Linked DNA regions of Homo sapiens. The protein of the gene in region 4 purifies or fractionates together with the protein of the main gene of each other region. This does not show direct contact. Each region holds a gene or a part of one and is shown on either strand. Other genes may lie near its edges.

Evidence for each region. Proteins that work in one complex are often made in the same cells at the same time.
Region 1: the proteins of NUDT19 (region 4) and AKR1C3 fractionate together in Homo sapiens (co-fractionation; one large-scale study listed by BioGRID). This does not show direct contact.
Region 2: the proteins of NUDT19 (region 4) and FXN fractionate together in Homo sapiens (co-fractionation; one large-scale study listed by BioGRID). This does not show direct contact.
Region 3: the proteins of NUDT19 (region 4) and SQOR fractionate together in Homo sapiens (co-fractionation; one large-scale study listed by BioGRID). This does not show direct contact.

Annotation. Positions count from the first base shown.
Region 1 is NC_000010.11:5,092,563-5,097,221, reverse strand, and holds the start of AKR1C3 (aldo-keto reductase family 1 member C3), read right to left. Parts: upstream 2,809-4,659; 5' UTR 2,778-2,808; coding exon 2,694-2,777; intron 813-2,693; coding exon 645-812; intron 1-644. UniProt on the Homo sapiens protein: Cytosolic aldo-keto reductase that catalyzes the NADH and NADPH-dependent reduction of ketosteroids to hydroxysteroids.
Region 2 is NC_000009.12:69,038,255-69,042,259, forward strand, and holds part of FXN (frataxin, mitochondrial isoform 1 preproprotein), read left to right. Parts: intron 1-4,005.
Region 3 is NC_000015.10:45,686,532-45,689,412, reverse strand, and holds part of SQOR (sulfide:quinone oxidoreductase, mitochondrial), read right to left. Parts: intron 1,077-2,881; coding exon 1,009-1,076; intron 375-1,008; coding exon 196-374; intron 1-195. UniProt on the Homo sapiens protein: Catalyzes the oxidation of hydrogen sulfide with the help of a quinone, such as ubiquinone-10, giving rise to thiosulfate and ultimately to sulfane (molecular sulfur) atoms.
Region 4 is NC_000019.10:32,693,768-32,699,325, forward strand, and holds part of NUDT19 (acyl-coenzyme A diphosphatase NUDT19 precursor), read left to right. Parts: exon of another isoform or gene 1-327; intron 328-5,558. UniProt on the Homo sapiens protein: Fatty acyl-coenzyme A (CoA) diphosphatase that hydrolyzes fatty acyl-CoA to yield acyl-4'-phosphopantetheine and adenosine 3',5'-bisphosphate.

The DNA.
Region 1 (4,659 bases), on a different chromosome or scaffold from region 4:
GATAGGAGTAAATTCTTAAAATGTAAAGATTAGTATTAAGTAATAACTATGATGTTACCTGAATTATCTTCAGTAGAGTTTACAACTCATTTTAACAGTCTAATTCTTCTATCCATTCAACCCAATGCTTAAGAATAGCTATTTATGTTGCTTAGAAACTAAAGCAACATAAAAGGGGGGTAAAACAAGTTTTGAACATGCTCACTATGCTGGACACAATTTAGGACAATTTAAGTGTCTATTATTTAATACTCCCAGAGCTTTCTTATATTGCTTTCTATCTCACTGATAAAGATAGCAATTGAGAGAATAATAAGAAATCTTAGAAAATCACCCAGGCGATAAGAAAAACCATAACATGATTATTGTTCTCTGTGATTCTATAGCACATGTCAAATCACACTGATCTCAGCTGAAGCTCAAAAAAGTAAAGGGACTTTCAGGTCATAAATTGGAACACAGCCAAAATGAAAAGTGATCATCATTCCTTGATTTTGATTTCAGTTTTAGTATGTGAGTATGTGTGAATAAATTTGAACCCAGAAGCAAAATTCACCCACAACTACTCATCCAGTCATAGAATTGTCATCTCCACACAATCACAATAAATACATGTGCACACAAGCTCATCATAGACACAGTACCTTTGAAGTGTAGAATATGTCTTCTCTCTTCACACTGCCATCTGCAATCTTGCTTCGGATGGCCAGTCCAACCTGCTCCTCATTATTGTATAAATGAGCAGAATCTATATGGCGGAACCCAGCTTCTATTGCTAATTTTGTGACCTCCAAAGCTTTACTTCTCGGAACCTGGAGGAGCAACCAAAGGTAGTATCTGGTGATCACTGTGGCTGAGAGGTAGTTCAGGCACAAGCATTGACTTTTATACAAGAATCAGCTTTTCCTCCTGTCTGTATGTGGGGTGAAAAGTCCATCTCAGTTTGCCTGAGTCTTTCCTGGTTAGTAATAAAGGTTGAGCATCCCAGAAACACCTTCAGTCTCAGGCAATCTCTGGTTGATCACTGTTATGGAGGTACCAAATAACACCCTCAGATTCAGTGATTTGTTGGAAAAGTTAACATGACTGAAATAGTCCTAATTATTTTTAATATAGTGATATTATACATGGTAAAAATCACATGGAGTATAGAAGGGAAACGGTGCAAGCTCATATGAGTTCTCTCCCAGTGATATTACACAGAATGCTCACTCAGACTTCCTCCAACATCGTATTTGGGAAATGCTGTCTACAAGAGATGTTCTTTGGTGTCTCAGTTCTTGAGATTTTGACTGGATGCTAGTTACATCGACCCAACTAGGGTTCACTTGGGAAATAAAGCATCTGTGAATAGTAGTCTATTAAGTCTTTTCTGCATAGTCATTCTGGCTACACAACAGAACTGAACACTAGGGGTAAAGATGTATACTCTGAGGATATCGATTTGTACATTAAAAATTCACTGAAATCTGTTAAGAATTTACTAAGGTACAGTTCTGCCATAAAAAATAAGGCTATCTCTTTCAGGAAAGACAGAATTCCAGTGAAATTTAAAATTACTGACTTATTGACCAAATTTGGATAAAGATTTGAAAGGTATTTTTTAATGACAAAAATATAAATAAACTGTTTTCATTTTTACATGTATTTAAAGAAGCTTTCTTGTTTCGTTGAAATTACAAGGAACTAGATAACGGTCTCCCCGCCATCTCCTGAGAACAGTCTTTTTTTTTTTTTTTAAATCTTTTTTGAGAGCAGTCTTTAAGTGTGCCAACACTCAAAGGTTTACCAAGGCTGGAGCTTCAGTTGTGTCGTTATTTTCATTTCCTGCCCATGCCAATTTATATTAAAAATTAAACCACTTTTGTCACTGGTCTAGAAAATGTATCCTTGTAGATCATCACAACTTATCGATAAAGTGAGAGACTCAAATTTCAATAATTAGTTCCTATTCACACACTTAGTAGCCTGAGGACAGTCTTGGAATACAAGTTCTATCTAGAAAATGAGGTCTCCATTTTGTTCATTTTTGTGTCAGAAGACCACTCCTACCACTTTGATACAAATATGATGCATACAAAAAAGGACTAAGAATTTAGACTTTCCTTTGTTAGGTTCTAGATTTTACTTAAAATGAGGTGGTATTTTTTTCTTTCAGGAAGTTCTTTTTAAAAGTGAAATAGTACAGTGGAAACTCTAGTCCAGGTCCGGTAATACTGGGTGGCACTCACTGCCGCCCATCAGAACAGTGATACTCTGCCGACAGTTTTGTGCACACCATATCCAGTAATTTTTGCTATAAGTATTTCTCTGGATCGTATGTTCTTGGAAGATGGAAAGATTTCTTCAGTTGTAGAAACAGAGAAATCACTCCTATTGCAATTAATCTCCACCAGAGGGAGATGACCAACAGTGTTCTTCAATACTGAGTTTTACATATTCTGCCAAGCTGGGAACTAGACATGAACAGAAGAAAGAAACAGTGCACAAACGAAAAATAAGCAGTACGTGACCATAGGAATGGACCTCAATGCAGAACAAGGATTGCCTACTTTTTTCTCCTAGCCTAGGAAACCTAGACCAGTGAGTCATCCAGAGTAAGGTAGGAACACGAACCTTACAACCCAATACGGGTTTCACTTCTACTAGGTTTATTCTTTTGAAATCCGAAAACTAAAAGGAATTATTCTTACCTCTGGAGGTGCATAGGTGCCAAATCCCAATACAGGCATGAAGTGGCCATCATTTAGCTTTACACACTGGTGTTTGGAATCCATTCCCTGTCACTTGTCTGACTAGCAAATGTTTGCTGCTGCTTCTCCTCAGAGATTACAAAAACAATGGGCAGGAAACCCCTCCCCCCACCCCTGCAAACTGACTGATGGTTAACCAATGGCATGTAGGAGGAGGTACATAGGCAGTCTTATATGGTCTGTGGAGAAAATTGCATTCAGTTCATTTGTTTCTTATCAAAGAGAATTCCTAAGTAAATTATTATAATATATGGTTATAATAAACTCATTAATTTCTATCTAAAGTATTATTTTCTATTCTAAATCTCTATATTAAATTATTCAAAAGGATTTGTAGAACAAATAGCAACCATATGTTAGACTATAAAAACCTCCAGCTACAAATATCTTTTTTCGTTTCTGCCGTGATAATGCCCCTTCTTTATACTGCATCATTTGAAATAATTAACCATCTTACGTCTTTCTCTCACATACACATAATTTAAAGGAATGACTAATGAGAATTTTTCAAATAGTTGGTCCTCAATAAAAAATTAAAGTTAAAACTGTAAAAATATTTGCCTTTTTACATTTTCAATCAGAAAATTTATTTTGATTTTTCTTTCTTTGCGTTGTAAGAGAAATATTCATTTCTGAAGAAGATGCAGTCCTGATAAAGCTGTAATCCTGATGAGGGTGCAAATAAAAAGAAATTCTGGTGTAGTTTTTATTGGAGTGTTAATTATTAACAGTTTTTGGAGTTTGGACATCATTTAATATATGCAAGCAGTGCCTTAATAGTATTTGTTCTTCAACCAGGTTTATTACAGACTATCAAGAAGTAACTAGCCAAAAAACTGATAACCATTTTATATAATCTGTCATCTTGTTAAACATTATTTGTAAGGAAAAACTGGAAATTAATTACATATAAATGGATGAATAATTCTCATGTGGGATAGTTTTCACTTGTTCCTTCCTTTGGAGGGCAGATTAGAACATGATGAATGTAGTTTGCACAATACATTATCAACATCTTGGAGTTGTCAGAACTTGCAATGCCCTGATTTCGTTCTATTTACTTTTCCTCAAATAATAACCAAAAAGTAAGTTGAGAAATAAGTTAATTATTATACATTGATACAATATAATATAAAATCATTGAAAGCTTTTACAGAGTGATTTCAGCAATATGGTGGATCAAAAGGCCCCTACTTGTCTCATGGACGCGTCAAGAAGTGATCTGAAATTGACTAAAATAAACTTATTTATTTATGGGGGTGCTGAGTAGAAATGTAGTATGATGCCAAGGGCAAGAGATTAGGGGAAGAGACGTGCAATAGTCCGTCTAACCCATTGAGGGGAAGCTGGGGTGTGAATTTTTGAAATAGTAAGCTATTCAAAAGCCAGTAGGTATTTGGGGGAACTACTAATGGGCACACACAGTCCAGGCAGATACAAGTTCAGAAAATTGCTGACAAGGCCTTAGGGTTTTATGTTGGGCTTATGCTAAGACTAAGAACATACCAAGCATATTAGTTGATAATCGTCATGACACAGAACAAATCTATATAGAGTTAGAAAAATGTCTATATTTTGAAATGCTCAAATAAAATAATAAGGTATATAAAGAAACAGGAAAACACAGTCCCTTATAAGAAAGAAAACGAGTTGACAGAAATTATTTTTGAAGAACCATGAGCACTGAAATTAGTAGAGAAAGGTTTTAAAACAATTATCTTAAATATGCTAAAATTTCCAATTAAAAATATGGAAATAGAACTACAGGAAATTGGGAAAAGCATATACGGAAAAATGAGTGTATCAACAATGATGTAGAAATTATACAAAATAAACCAAACAAATTTTGGAGCTGAACGATATAACTGAAGTGAAAATCTCACTAGAGGATTTCAACAGCAATTTG
Region 2 (4,005 bases), on a different chromosome or scaffold from region 4:
TATTTTAAAGCCCTGACTGTCCTGGATTGACCCTAAGCTCCCCCTGGTCTCCAAAATTCATCAGAAACTGAGTTCACTTGAAGGCCTCTTCCCCACCCTTTTCTCCACCCCTTGCATCTACTTCTAAAGCAGCTGTTCAACAGAAACAGAATGGGAGCCACACACATAATTCTACATTTTCTAGTTAAAAAGAAAAAAAAATCATTTTCAACAATATATTTATTCAACCTAGTACATACAAAATATTATCATTCCAACATGTAATCAGTATTTTAAAAATCAGTAATGAGACCAGGCACGGTGGCTCACGACTGTAATCCCAGGACTTTGGGAGGCCGAGGCGAGTGGATCATCTGAGATCAGGAGTTCAAGACCAGCCTGGCCAACATGGTGAAACCCCATCTCTACTAAAAACTAGCTCAGCATGGTGGTGGGTGCCTGTAGTCCCAGCTACTCGGGAGGCTGAGGCATGAGAATCACTTGAGCCCAGGAGGCAGAGGTTGCAGTGAGCCAAGATTTTGGGGGATTCTGTGACATACAAAAAAAATCAGTAATAAGATATCTTGCATACTCTTTTCGTACTCATATACTTCCAGCATATCTCAATTCACAATTTCTAAGTAAATGCTCTATCTGTATTTACTTTTATAAAATTCACAATTAAAAATGAAGGTTCACATAGTCAAGTTGTTCCAAACACACTTAAATGTCTCCTAGGCTGGGTGTGGTTGCTCACACCTGTAATCCCAGCACTTTGGGAGGCTGAGATGGGCGGATCACCTGAGGTCAGGAGTTTGAGACCAGCCTGGCCAACATGGTGAAACCCCGTCTCTACTAAAAATACAAAAATTAGCTGGATGTGGTGGCACTCACCTGTAATCCCAGCTACTCAGGAGGCTGAGGCAGGATAATTGCTTGAACCCGGGAGGTGGTGGAGGTTGCAGTGAGCCGAGATCGCACCACTGCCTTCCAACCTGGGCGACAGAGCGAGACTCCGTCTCAAAAAAAAAAAAAAGGCTCCTAATAACTTTATTACTTTATTATCACCTCAAATAATTAAAATTAAATGAAGTTGAAAATCCAGGTCCTCAGTCCCATTAGCCACATTTCTAGTGCTCAGTAGCCACGGGGGCTGGTGACCACCACATGGGACAGCATATTTAGTACCTGATCATTGGTTCTCAGATCTGGCTACTCAGCAGAACCAAGAATCCACAGAAACGGCTTTTAAAAGCACAGCCCCACAGCCCCCAGCCCCAGCCTTACCTACCTGGAGGCTGGGAAGGACTCTGATTCCACGAGGCAGCCTATGTTTTTTGATGGAGGGATGTGACAGGGGCTGCATCTTTAACGTTTCCTCTTAAATACTGGAGACAGCTTCGAGGAGGAGATAACTGGATGTGTCTTAGTCCATTTGATGGAGGGATGTGACGGGGCTGCGTCTTTAACGTTTCCTCTTAAATACCGGAGACAGCTTCGAGAAGGAGATAACTGGATGTTTCTTAGTCCATTTTCTGTTGCTTGTGACAGAATACCTGAAACTGGGCAATTTATATGGTAAAAAATTTTCTTCTTACTGCTCTGGAGGCTGAGAAGTCCAAAGTCAAGTCCCTTCTTGCTGGTGGGGACTTTGCAGAGTATTGAGGCGGCACCGGGCGTCATATGGTAAGGGGCTGAGTGTGCTACCTCAGGTGTCTTTTTCTTTTCTTATAAAGCCTAACTAGTTTCACTCCCATGATAACCCATTAATCTATGAATGGATTAATCCATTATTGAGGGAAGAACCTTCATGACCCAGTCACCGCTTAAAGGCCCCACCTCTCAATACTGCCACATCGGGAATTAAGTTTCAACATGAGTTTCGGAGGTGACAAACATTCAAACCATAGCATGCTGTCTCTTAAATGACTCAATAAGCTCCTGTGGCATCCACTTCTGCATGCCTTGGGCAGCTTTTAGACATCTGTCCATTTTCCTAGAGGGACAAGACCACCACCTGTGATCCTATGACCTTTTGGCTTTAGGCCTAACAAGCAGGTTATACCCTCACTCACTTTCAAATCATTTTTATTGTCTTGCAGACAATTTACACAAGTTTACACATAGAAAAGGATATGTAAATATTTATACGCTGCCGGGCGCGGTGGCTCACGCCTGTAATCCCAGCACTTTGGGAGGCCGAGGCAGGTGGATCACGAGTTCAGGAGATGGAGACCATCCTGGCTAATACGATGAAACCCCATCTCTACTAAAAATACAAAAAATTAGCCGGGCGTGGTGACGGGTGCCTGTAGTCCCCACTACTCGGGACGCTGAGGCAGGAGAATGGCGTGAACCCGGGAGGCAGAGCTTGCAGTGATCCGAGATCGTGCCACTGCACTCCAGCCTGGGTGACAGAGCGAGACTGCATCTCAAAGAAAAAAATAAATAAATAAATAAATATTTATACTGCTTATAAACTAATAATAAATGCTATGGTCTGCATGTTTGTGTCACCCCACCATTCATATGTTAAAACCTAATCACCAAAGTGATATTAGGAGGTGGGGCCCTTGGGAGGTGATGAGGTATGAGGGTGGAGCCCATATGATTGGGATTAGTGCCCTTCTAAAATAGCCCAACGGAGCCCAGTGACAAGGCATCATCTATGAACCAGGAAACTGGCCCTCACCAGACACCAAAGCTGTTGGTGCATTGATCTTGGATTTCCCACCCTCCAGGACTCTAAGAAACACATTTCTATTGTTTATAAGCCACCCAGTGGCTGGTATTTTGTTATAACATCCCAGACTAAGACAAATAACAAATACTTGTATCCCTGACACCAGGTTAAGAGATAGAATTTGTTTGTTCCTCTGGAGGCCCTTGTCTTCACCCCATCACTGCCCTGTCCTCCCTGGAGGAATCTGCCAGCCCGAATTCTGTTCATCGTACCCTCCTTTTCTTAGAGTTTGACCTCCTCTGTATCTCCCCCAATCCATGTATTGCTTATATACAAGGTATTCTGCTGTATCTGTTCTGCTATGGCTTGCCCCTTTTGTTCAACACTGTTTTTGTGCGTCATCTGCATTGATGCATGCAGTTGTCCTTTATTTGTTCTCACTGCTGGATAGTATCTGGTTGGGTAAATATATCACACTGTAAATCACACTATCCAGGTTCCTTTAGGTGACATTTGGTTGATTGCAGTGTTCTGTTGTTACGATGGTGCTGCTGTGACTGTTCTTGTGCATGGACAGAAGTTCCTTTCAGGTGAATTTCTCAGAATGGAATTGCTGGGCAAAGGGGCAGCCAATAATCAACTCATTTGATGCCAAAAGTGGTGGTGCCAGTTCATCCTCCCCTGCGAGGTATGGGTCCTGATTCACTCTTCAAGTGCTGTGGTTTGACAGGGCCGGGGGTGACAAGGGGACACCTGGGAAGGAAAGCTGGGCTCCCTGCTGGCCATCCAGGCCAGTCCTTACCAGGGGGTAGGCAATGATTGGGTCAAGTGGTTCCTGACCACTGGGCCTGAGACTTCAGGCCCAGAAACTATCTAATATTTCCTCAAATGCATCCCATGAGCAGGCACTGTGTGAGTGAGCACACACATCTGAAGCCTCAAGCTAGGCAAGCCTACCATGACTTGTGGTCCAAGGGCTCACGGGTGACCTGGAGTTAGAGGGAGACATGGCTGCCAGGTGGCTTTAGAAAGAACACTCATCATGGCCAGGTGCGGTGGCTTACGCCTGTAATCCCAGCACTTTGGGAGGCCAAGGTGGGTGGATCATGAGGTCAGGAGTGAGACCAGCCTGACCAACATGCTGAAACCTGTCTCTCCTAAAAACACAAAAATTAGCTGGGCATGGAGGTGCACGCCTGTAATCCCAGCTACTCAGGAGGCTGAGGCAGGAGAATCACTTGAACCCGGGAGGCGGAGGTTGCAATAAGCCTAGATTGTGCCACTGCATTCCAGCCTGGGCAACAGAGCAAGACTCCGTCTCAGAAAAAAAAAAAAAAAGGAAG
Region 3 (2,881 bases), on a different chromosome or scaffold from region 4:
GTAGCAGATGATAGAGTACTTGGTATGTGAAAGTGATTTACTATTATTATTTATCCAGCAGCAAAAGAGGGCCTAGAGCATGGAAGACAGAACACTTGGTCACTGCTAATAATGAAGAAAAGAGGCTGCATCCCCTTTGGGTGGAGATGTGCTACAAATCCCTTTCCTCATCCAGGAACCAGGCAGTGCACTTACCTTAGCATCATATTCCAATACAGGAAAGGCATCAGGTCAGCTTTCATGAGATACATGGAAAGGCGCTCTTTGCTTTGATCAAAGGGGAAGGTTTCTAGCGGCTCTGCTTTGTAGTCAAACTCAGCAAGAATCACACGGTTGTAGCCGGTCACCAGTGGACATGATGTGTAGCCATCATACTAAAATTGTAAATCAGACTGAGTTGGAAAGTAGATTTTTTTCATGGTACTATATTAACACTATAGAATTTATTATTTGCTGTGAGTGCTTATATATTTTTTCTTTTCTGTATATTCTAGCTTTTTGTACTGTGAAAAATGTAAATTATATTACAAAAAAAATAGTACTAATGGCAAAAACAGAAATGCCCATATTGGAGACACTAATTAAAAAAGTGCAAAACTGGGCCAGGCGCGGTGGCTCACACCTGTAATCCCAGCAGTTTGGGAGGCCAAGGCGGGTGGATCATCTGAGGTCAGGAGTTTGAGATCAGCCTGACCAACATGGAGAAACCCTGTCTCTACTAAAAATACAAAAAATTAGCCAGGTGTGGTGGCACATGCCTGTAATTCCATCTATTCGGGAGGCTGAGGCAGGAGAATCGCTTGAACCCAGGAGGTGGAGGTTGCGGTGAGCTGAGATCGTGCCATTGCACTCCAGCCTGGGCAACAAGAGCAAACTGCATCTCAAAAAAAAAAAAAAGAAAAACAGAAAAAAAGAAAAGACAGAAAGTGCAAAATTGTGGGAAAACACTACTTTTACACAGAATGGAAGATGATCATTGAGACAGTGATTCTTACAAGGCATACAAACCTTCTTTGTTGGTGTTTGATTCTTCATAATTACAGAAATTGTCCTATCAAGTATTCCTGACTGGGCAGCTATAAGAGAAATGGGAAAGTCAGAAAAATGTAAGCATCAAGGTTTTCCATGAAAACTAATTTGCAAATAACTTTAATGTAAACAAGAAGATTCCATTTCCCATCCCTCAAGACTGTGACTAGAACATGACCTTCTTACTAATTGAAATTCTGACTACCGGAGGGGGTTCTTTAATTCATGGAAGGCCTGCGCATGTGTTTCCATGGGTTTGATACTAAAGAGCCGACTCCCTCCAGTGTGGCTGTAAGGAGGGACCTACCCCAAATCCACTGCCTCTCCTCTTGGGGTTGAGGCTGTCAACTTAGTCTGTGTGTCCACTTAGTCAGTGTTCTTGACCATGTGGGTTATCCCTGTGTCCCTGTTCACAGGCAGTCTGGATTGGTAGCCCCAGGCATTTCCAATAAGACAAAGCAGGCCTTCCTCTCTACCGGACTGTCCTGGCTGAGGCAGGACCAGGTGGATATAGATACAGATATAGATATAGATCTGTGGATATAGATATAGATCTATAGATATAGAGATACAGATATATAGATCTACCTGTATTTCCATCTCTCTGTCTCTTTCCTAGATAGACAGACAGACAGACAGAACGACAGACAGATACAGATAGATACATACATACATCGGGATTTGTTTCTGTTTTTCTTTGGCAAGAATGGGGAGACTGCCTTTTTTATTAGGAAAATGTTCAAATTCCATCGTTTTGTTTCATGCATCTCATCACACATGCTATTTTTTTCCCGCTGTATTTTTAGAGCAGATATCACATCAGTTCACTCATAAATCTCCTGTCTGTATCTCTGATGGGGAATTTTCTTAACACAAACCCGCAGTATTTTCGCACCCCCAAAATATTAGTAATAGTTTCTTCATATAATCTAAACCCAGTTTGTGTTCAATGTTGAATAATTAAGACTGCCCAGATGGGCATGGTGGCTCATGCCTGTAATCCCAACACTTTGGGAGGCCGAGGAAAGTGGATCATTTGAGGTCAGGAGTTCAAGACCAGCCTGGCCAATATGATGAAACCCCATCTCTACTAAAAATACAAAAATTAGTCAGGCATGATGGTACACGCCTGTAATCCCAGCTACTCAGGAGGCTGAGGCAGGAGAATCGCGGAGGTTGCAGCAAGCCGAGATGGCACCACTGCACTCCACCCTTGGGGATAAAGTGAGACGCCACCTCAGAAAAACAAAAAAAGACTACCCTTTTAAGGAGACAGCAGTTTGTGGCCGAGCATGGTGGCTTACGCCTGTAATCTCAGCACTTTGGGGGACCAAGGTGAGCAGATCACAGGAGTTTGAGACCAGCCTGGCCAACATGGTGAAACCTGTCTCTACTAAAAATACAAAAAATTAGCCAGGCGTGGTGTCGCTCCTGTAATTCCAGCTACTCAGGAGGCTGAGGCACAAGAATAGATTGAATCCGGAGGCAGAGGTTGCAATGAGCTGAGATTGCACCACTGCCCTCCAGCCTGCATGACGGAATGAGACTCTGTCTCAAAAATAAAATAAAATGAAGATACAGCAGTTTGTGTCTCTAGAGGTAGAACATGGGATTCACGTTTGAGGAAAGATGGGTTACCTTTGTATTATAAAATGCTTATTAAAGTGGTTATTTTGCAATCTCCCAAATCAGGGGTTAGCAAACTTTTTCTGTAAGAAAAATTGCAGGCCTTGTGGGCCCACGGCAAATCAAAGATATTATATAATGAGAAAAAACAAAATTTCCACCATACAAAAACAGGCAGTGGACTGCATTGCCCCATAAGCTATAGTTTGCTGATGTCCAAATCAAA
Region 4 (5,558 bases):
GATTGGTGCATTTACAAATCTTTAGCTAGACAGAAAAGTTCTCCAAGTCCCCACTGGACCCAGGAAGTCCAGGGGCTTCACCTCTCAATCCCGCCTCTAAACAGGGCACCCCATCTGCTGTTGGGAATTGGGCAATGACTGCTCTAGCTACTTCCTGCTGGACAGGGGCAAAGAAGGGGCCCTGCAGTTGTAGTGTCCTCCAGAGGGGAACTCTCTAGGCCAGTGAAAGGGCCAGTGGGTCGGTCCAGGGGTCCTCGGTAGAAGTTGTTAGTTGAGCTCATTTGGGTTTCCGTTTGTAAGACCATCTGTAGTTTGATGGCCTTGATTCTAGAGGAAACAAATTTGACAAGGAGGTTAAAAATACAGGGCCCGAAGGCGAGTAATAGTAAAACGGCTGTCACAGGATGTAGAAAGGGGAGAAGCCATGTTGCCCAACTCCAGAGGTTGGTATAAGAGTTTGAAAGGCGTTGTCTGATTTCAGAAACCTTTTCCTGTAAATGCCGGGCGGCATCTTGCACTATCCCTGACTTGTTAGTGTAAAAACAACACTCTTCCCCTAAGGTGCAAAGTCCTCCTTTCTCAGCAGTGAGGAGGTCTAGGCCTCGGGGGTTTTGGAGAGTCACTGCTGCCAGAGTCTATTTGGGATTGTAGTTACTATCCTTACTGAATAGATTTTGTTATTTCTTGCAAACTGTCTGAGAAATACTTTGAGAGTGTGTGGTAGTAAGATAATGAAGTAGATAAACTGGCTATTCCGGTTCCTGTAGCAGTGGCCATTTCTAGCCCTATAAGTAGGGGTATCAGTTGTATGGCCCTGTGCTGATGGACTTGAGCTTTGAGGGGCACTGATAGGGTCTGATGTCCATAAGATTAGAAGTTAGGATAATATGTGTTACACTGTTAACTTTTAGCAAACTTTACTTTTGTTGAAAACCTTAAGTTTGGGATTTCAATTATTCTTTGCTATTAATAAGACCTCGTTCAGTCCATATTCACTTAAAATTGGTATAGATGGCTCCTTCCTGATTCTGTAAGTACTTTAAGGTTTGGCTGAGTGCAAACAGCTTGCACATTTGAGCAGACCAATTATTAGGCAATTTTCCTAACTCTGCTTCTGTAAGAGTTTCCTTATCACGTACTGAGTACCCATTGTGTCTTTTTCCTTAATCGCCCAGGAGGAAACATCTATCATCCTGTCCTGAAGGGGGTTCCTCCTATGTCTGGTCAGACCTTCAGATTTAGATCCCCTGTTAGGAACCTGCTGGGTTAAGGATTTTTGATAGGAAGGCTACAGGTTGTCAGTGGCCTCAGTGCTTTTGGGCTATGCCCTTGTTTACACTGACAACAAGGTGGTATTGGAGTGTTACAGGGTTACAGAGAAGACCTTCAATTATCAATTGTAGGTTTTATTTTTCATTTTTATTTTTTTGGAGATGGAGTCTTGCCCTGTCACCCAGGCTGGAGTGCAGTGGCATGATCTAGGCTCACCGCAACCTCTGCTTCCCGGGTTCAAGCAATTCTCCTGCCTCAGCCTCTGGAGTAGCTGGAATTACAGGCGCCCGCCACCACACCTGGCTAATTTTTGTATTTTTAGTAGAGACGGGGTTTCACCATGTTGGCCAAGTTGGTCTCAAACTCCTGACCTCATGATCTGCCCGCCTTGGCCTCCCAAAGTGCTGGGATTACAGGCATGAATTATATATTTTAAATTTACCCTGGCTTTTAAAGGAATAGGGTGCACTGTTTTTTCTTTACTACTTCTATCTCTTTCTCTCTGACTCCTTTGTCTCTTCCTCTCTTTCCTTCTGTCTTTGACTTTGCCTCTTTCTCTCTGCTGGTCTTTCCCTGCCTCTGCCAGCCGCTTATGCTGCCGTTCTCCCTTCTCCTTCCCCTTTTTGATGGCTTCGGCAGTGTAAGACTGCCACCTCCTTGGGTTTTTGCATTGAGTGCAATAACTCCATGATTTCCTTGTGGTATTTAATGGGGGTTCCCCCAGAGGTTAGGAACGCTCTTTCTTTACATATTGCAGCATGGGCATGTAGGATTAGATAAGCATACTTGCTATCTGTATACACGTTTTTTCTTTTTTCCTTTCCCAGTTCTAAGGCTCGGGTAAGTGCCACTAGTTCTGCTAACTGGGTGCTGGTCCCTGGGGGAAGAGGTTTACTTTCAAGTACGGTTACATCACTAACTGTGGCATAACCTGCCCTTCGTATCCCATTTTCCACAAATGAACTTCCATCGGTATATAGGTTAAGGTCAGGATTAGCTAACGGGACTTCTAAGAGATCCTTTCAGGCGGCATAAGTCTGGACTACTACCTGTTGGCAGCCATGCTTGACCCGCTCCCTATCCTCTGGGAGAAAAGTGGCAGGGCTGAGGGCCACACATGTATGCACTTGAAGCACTGGTCACTCAAGGAGTAGTGCCTGGTATCTAAGCAGGTGGTTTTCTGATAGCCATAAACTTCCTTTGGCACCTAGTTTGCCATTTACATCATGAGTAGTCCAGACAGTGAGATCCTTTCCTTGTATTATTTTGATAGCCTCTGACACTAAGACAGCCACTGCCACAACTACCCCTAAACAGTTAGTCTAGCCTTTTGCTACTGTATCAGTTTCCTTAGGTATGCCACTGGTTGTGGAGTTGTCCCATGAGTCTGAGTAAGGACCCCAAGAGCTATTCCTGCTCTCTCTGTGACGTTTAAAGAAAAGTTTCGTCCTGTGGGAAGGCTTAAGGCTAGAGCTTGAGTTTGTTCCTTCCAATGCCCAGACTTCAGGGTTGATTCCCTCCCCAAGCAGGGGACAACAAATGGGTAACTTGTTCCCCATATTCATGTAGATAATAGCTCCAGCTTTGGCTAATATATCCCTCCCTAATAAGGGTGTGGGACTTTCAGGCATAACAAGAAAGGCATGTGAAAGGAGCAAAGTCTCCCAATTACAACTGAGGAGGTGGGAGAAATACCTGGTTACAGCCTGTCCCAGGATTCCTCGGATGGTAACAGACCTTGAGGACAGCTCCAAGACAGGAAATTAACACTGAGAAAGCCACGCCAGTGTCCAGGAGGAAGTCAATTTCCTGGCCCTCAATGGTTATACATACCCAGGACTCAGTGAGAGTGATGACATGAGCTGGTGCTTTCCCTGGGCACCCTCAGTCTTGTTGCATCATCTGGTTGGTGGCTTCTGTCCCAGAGAACCTTTGTCCTCTGGGGCAGTGTGTCTTCCAGTGATTGCCTCGGCATAGTGGACATGGGCGAGGGGGCAGCTTGTTTCTCATAGGACAATCTTTTTTTTAAAAAGTGTCCTTGTAAACCACACTGATAACAAGCCCTACCAGGTGATTGGCCTGCTCCATTCTCTGTCCCCTCTGAACCACCAAGGTTTGTTTGTCTGAGGGCCATGACTAAGTCTGCGGCCTTTCTATTATCTCACTTTTACTTTTGGGCCTGTCCATCTTGGTCCCTATTATAGAACACTGAGGTTGCCAGGTTTAATAATGCTTCCAGAGTTTGTTCAGGGCCCAGGGCTCGCTTTTGGAGCTTTCTCCTGATATCCACAGATGATTGGGTAATAAACTTGTCTTTTAGGATCAATTGACCCTCAAGTGAGTCGGGTGACAGGGGAGTGTATTTTCTTAAGGCCTCCCGTAGCTGCTCGTGGAAGGCAGAAGCATTTTCTTCCTTTCCCTGAGTTATGGTGGACATCATTGAATAATTCATGGGCTTTTTCCTAATACTCCTTAGTCCTTCTAGAACACAAGTCAGCAGATGTTTACGACTCCAGTCCCCATGATCTGAGTCGAGGTCCCAGTGGGGATCCATACTGACTTACTGACATACGGCTTGCTGACTAGTAAGGAATTTGTCCCTTTCTTCAACTGTCATTCTATCATTTACTGGACTAAGATACCAGGTATCTCCAAACTCTTGGGCTGCAGCTAAAGCCACATTCTTTTCATTAAAGGCCAGGGTTTGATCTAACACTAGCATGACATCTCTCCAAGTGAGATAGAAGGTTTGCCCTCGACCCTGTAGGACATCTGTATACCTATCAAGATCATCTGAAAGCTTCCCAAGGTCTGCCTTGATCTGCTTAAAATCAGAGAGGGAGAAGGGAACATGTACCTAGGTTGGGCCAAATTCCGCTCCCCCTACAGCTTGAAGGGGACATAACCGATAGCCCGGGAAGGGGGCGTTTGTGATCCTTTGGAGATTTCTTTGCTTATTTCCTTCTGGGCAGCGGACATTAGAGGAGGATTATCATTAATAGGAAGGGGAGCTATAGGGAGGCTAGGATATGGAGGTAAGCTGAGAGGTCCTCCTGTGGGATGTAAATTGCAAGCTTTGCATACTTGGGTATTCTCCTTCAATGAAAAGAAAACTTAGACATAAGGTATTTCACTCCATTTGCCTTCCCTCTTACAGAAAAGGTCAGGCTGCAGGATAGTACTGTAGTTTATACTTCCCTCAGGTGGCCATTTTTCCCCATCAGAGAGAGAAATTGGGGCCAGGCTGTAGTATAGAAAAAAATGAGCCACCTCTTTTTCAGGGTTTGTGGGTCAAATTGGTCCCAGTGGCTTAGGATGCATTTCAAGGGTGAGCCTGTTGATGCCTGAGTGTTTCCCATCTGAAAGACAAAACCGCCTGTGGTTTTGGTTTGTTTGTTTCTCCCCCTGCCCAAGAACCTGCAACGGTCCCTGGACCCTGCTGATCGGAATAGTTGTGCTCACCAATGCAGCAGCAGAAACACCTCTTGCCCAAGAACCTGCAACAGTCCCCGGACCCTGCTGATTGGAGTAGTTGTGCTCACCAACGCAGCAGCAGAAACAACCCCTGCCCAAGAACCCGCAACAGTCCCTGGACCCTGCTGATCAGAATGGTTGTGCTCACTGACACAGCAGCAGAAACACTAGTTCTCCTAGACCACAAGGAGGAATGAGGAAGGTCAGATTTCGTGGCCCTTACCAACACATTCTCGAAAACCTGCGCCCTTTCCTGTCCTCCTAGACCTCAAAGAGGACTGAGAAAAATCAGATTTAGTGGCCCTTACTGATGCATTCTTGGAAAACTGTTGGAGTCCTAAGCATTCTCCTGTTAGTATTGGGACCTTACCCATGTCCTATAAAGATGTTATGCCCCCAAAATGAAGTGGAGGGCCATACCCTGAGGGAGGGAAGGGATCTCCAGAGTTGGAAGAGTGAAGCCTTTTATCCCCAGTTATATGAATAGGAAGGATACAATTTCTGAGGCTCCCGATATCCTAGTTTCAGGAATAGCTTTTGTTAGGCCTGCTTTTCTGAGGAGGGATTCTAAAATTCCAGATAATCCCCCCTACGATGGGGCTTTGAGCAAAAACTGTGTCTTTCTGATTGGTGAGCCCGGGTGTCTAAAGAAGGTAACAGAGTCCTGAAGTTTATCCTAGAAATCATTCTTACAGGAGAAACTAGAAAAGCACCAGAGATGGAGTGGTTTTTAGAAGTGGGACTAGCCTCAAAGAAAGGCGAGAGGAAGTTTGTCTGACAGGCATTAGGACCCAGGAGGCAAGGGTCAGGAT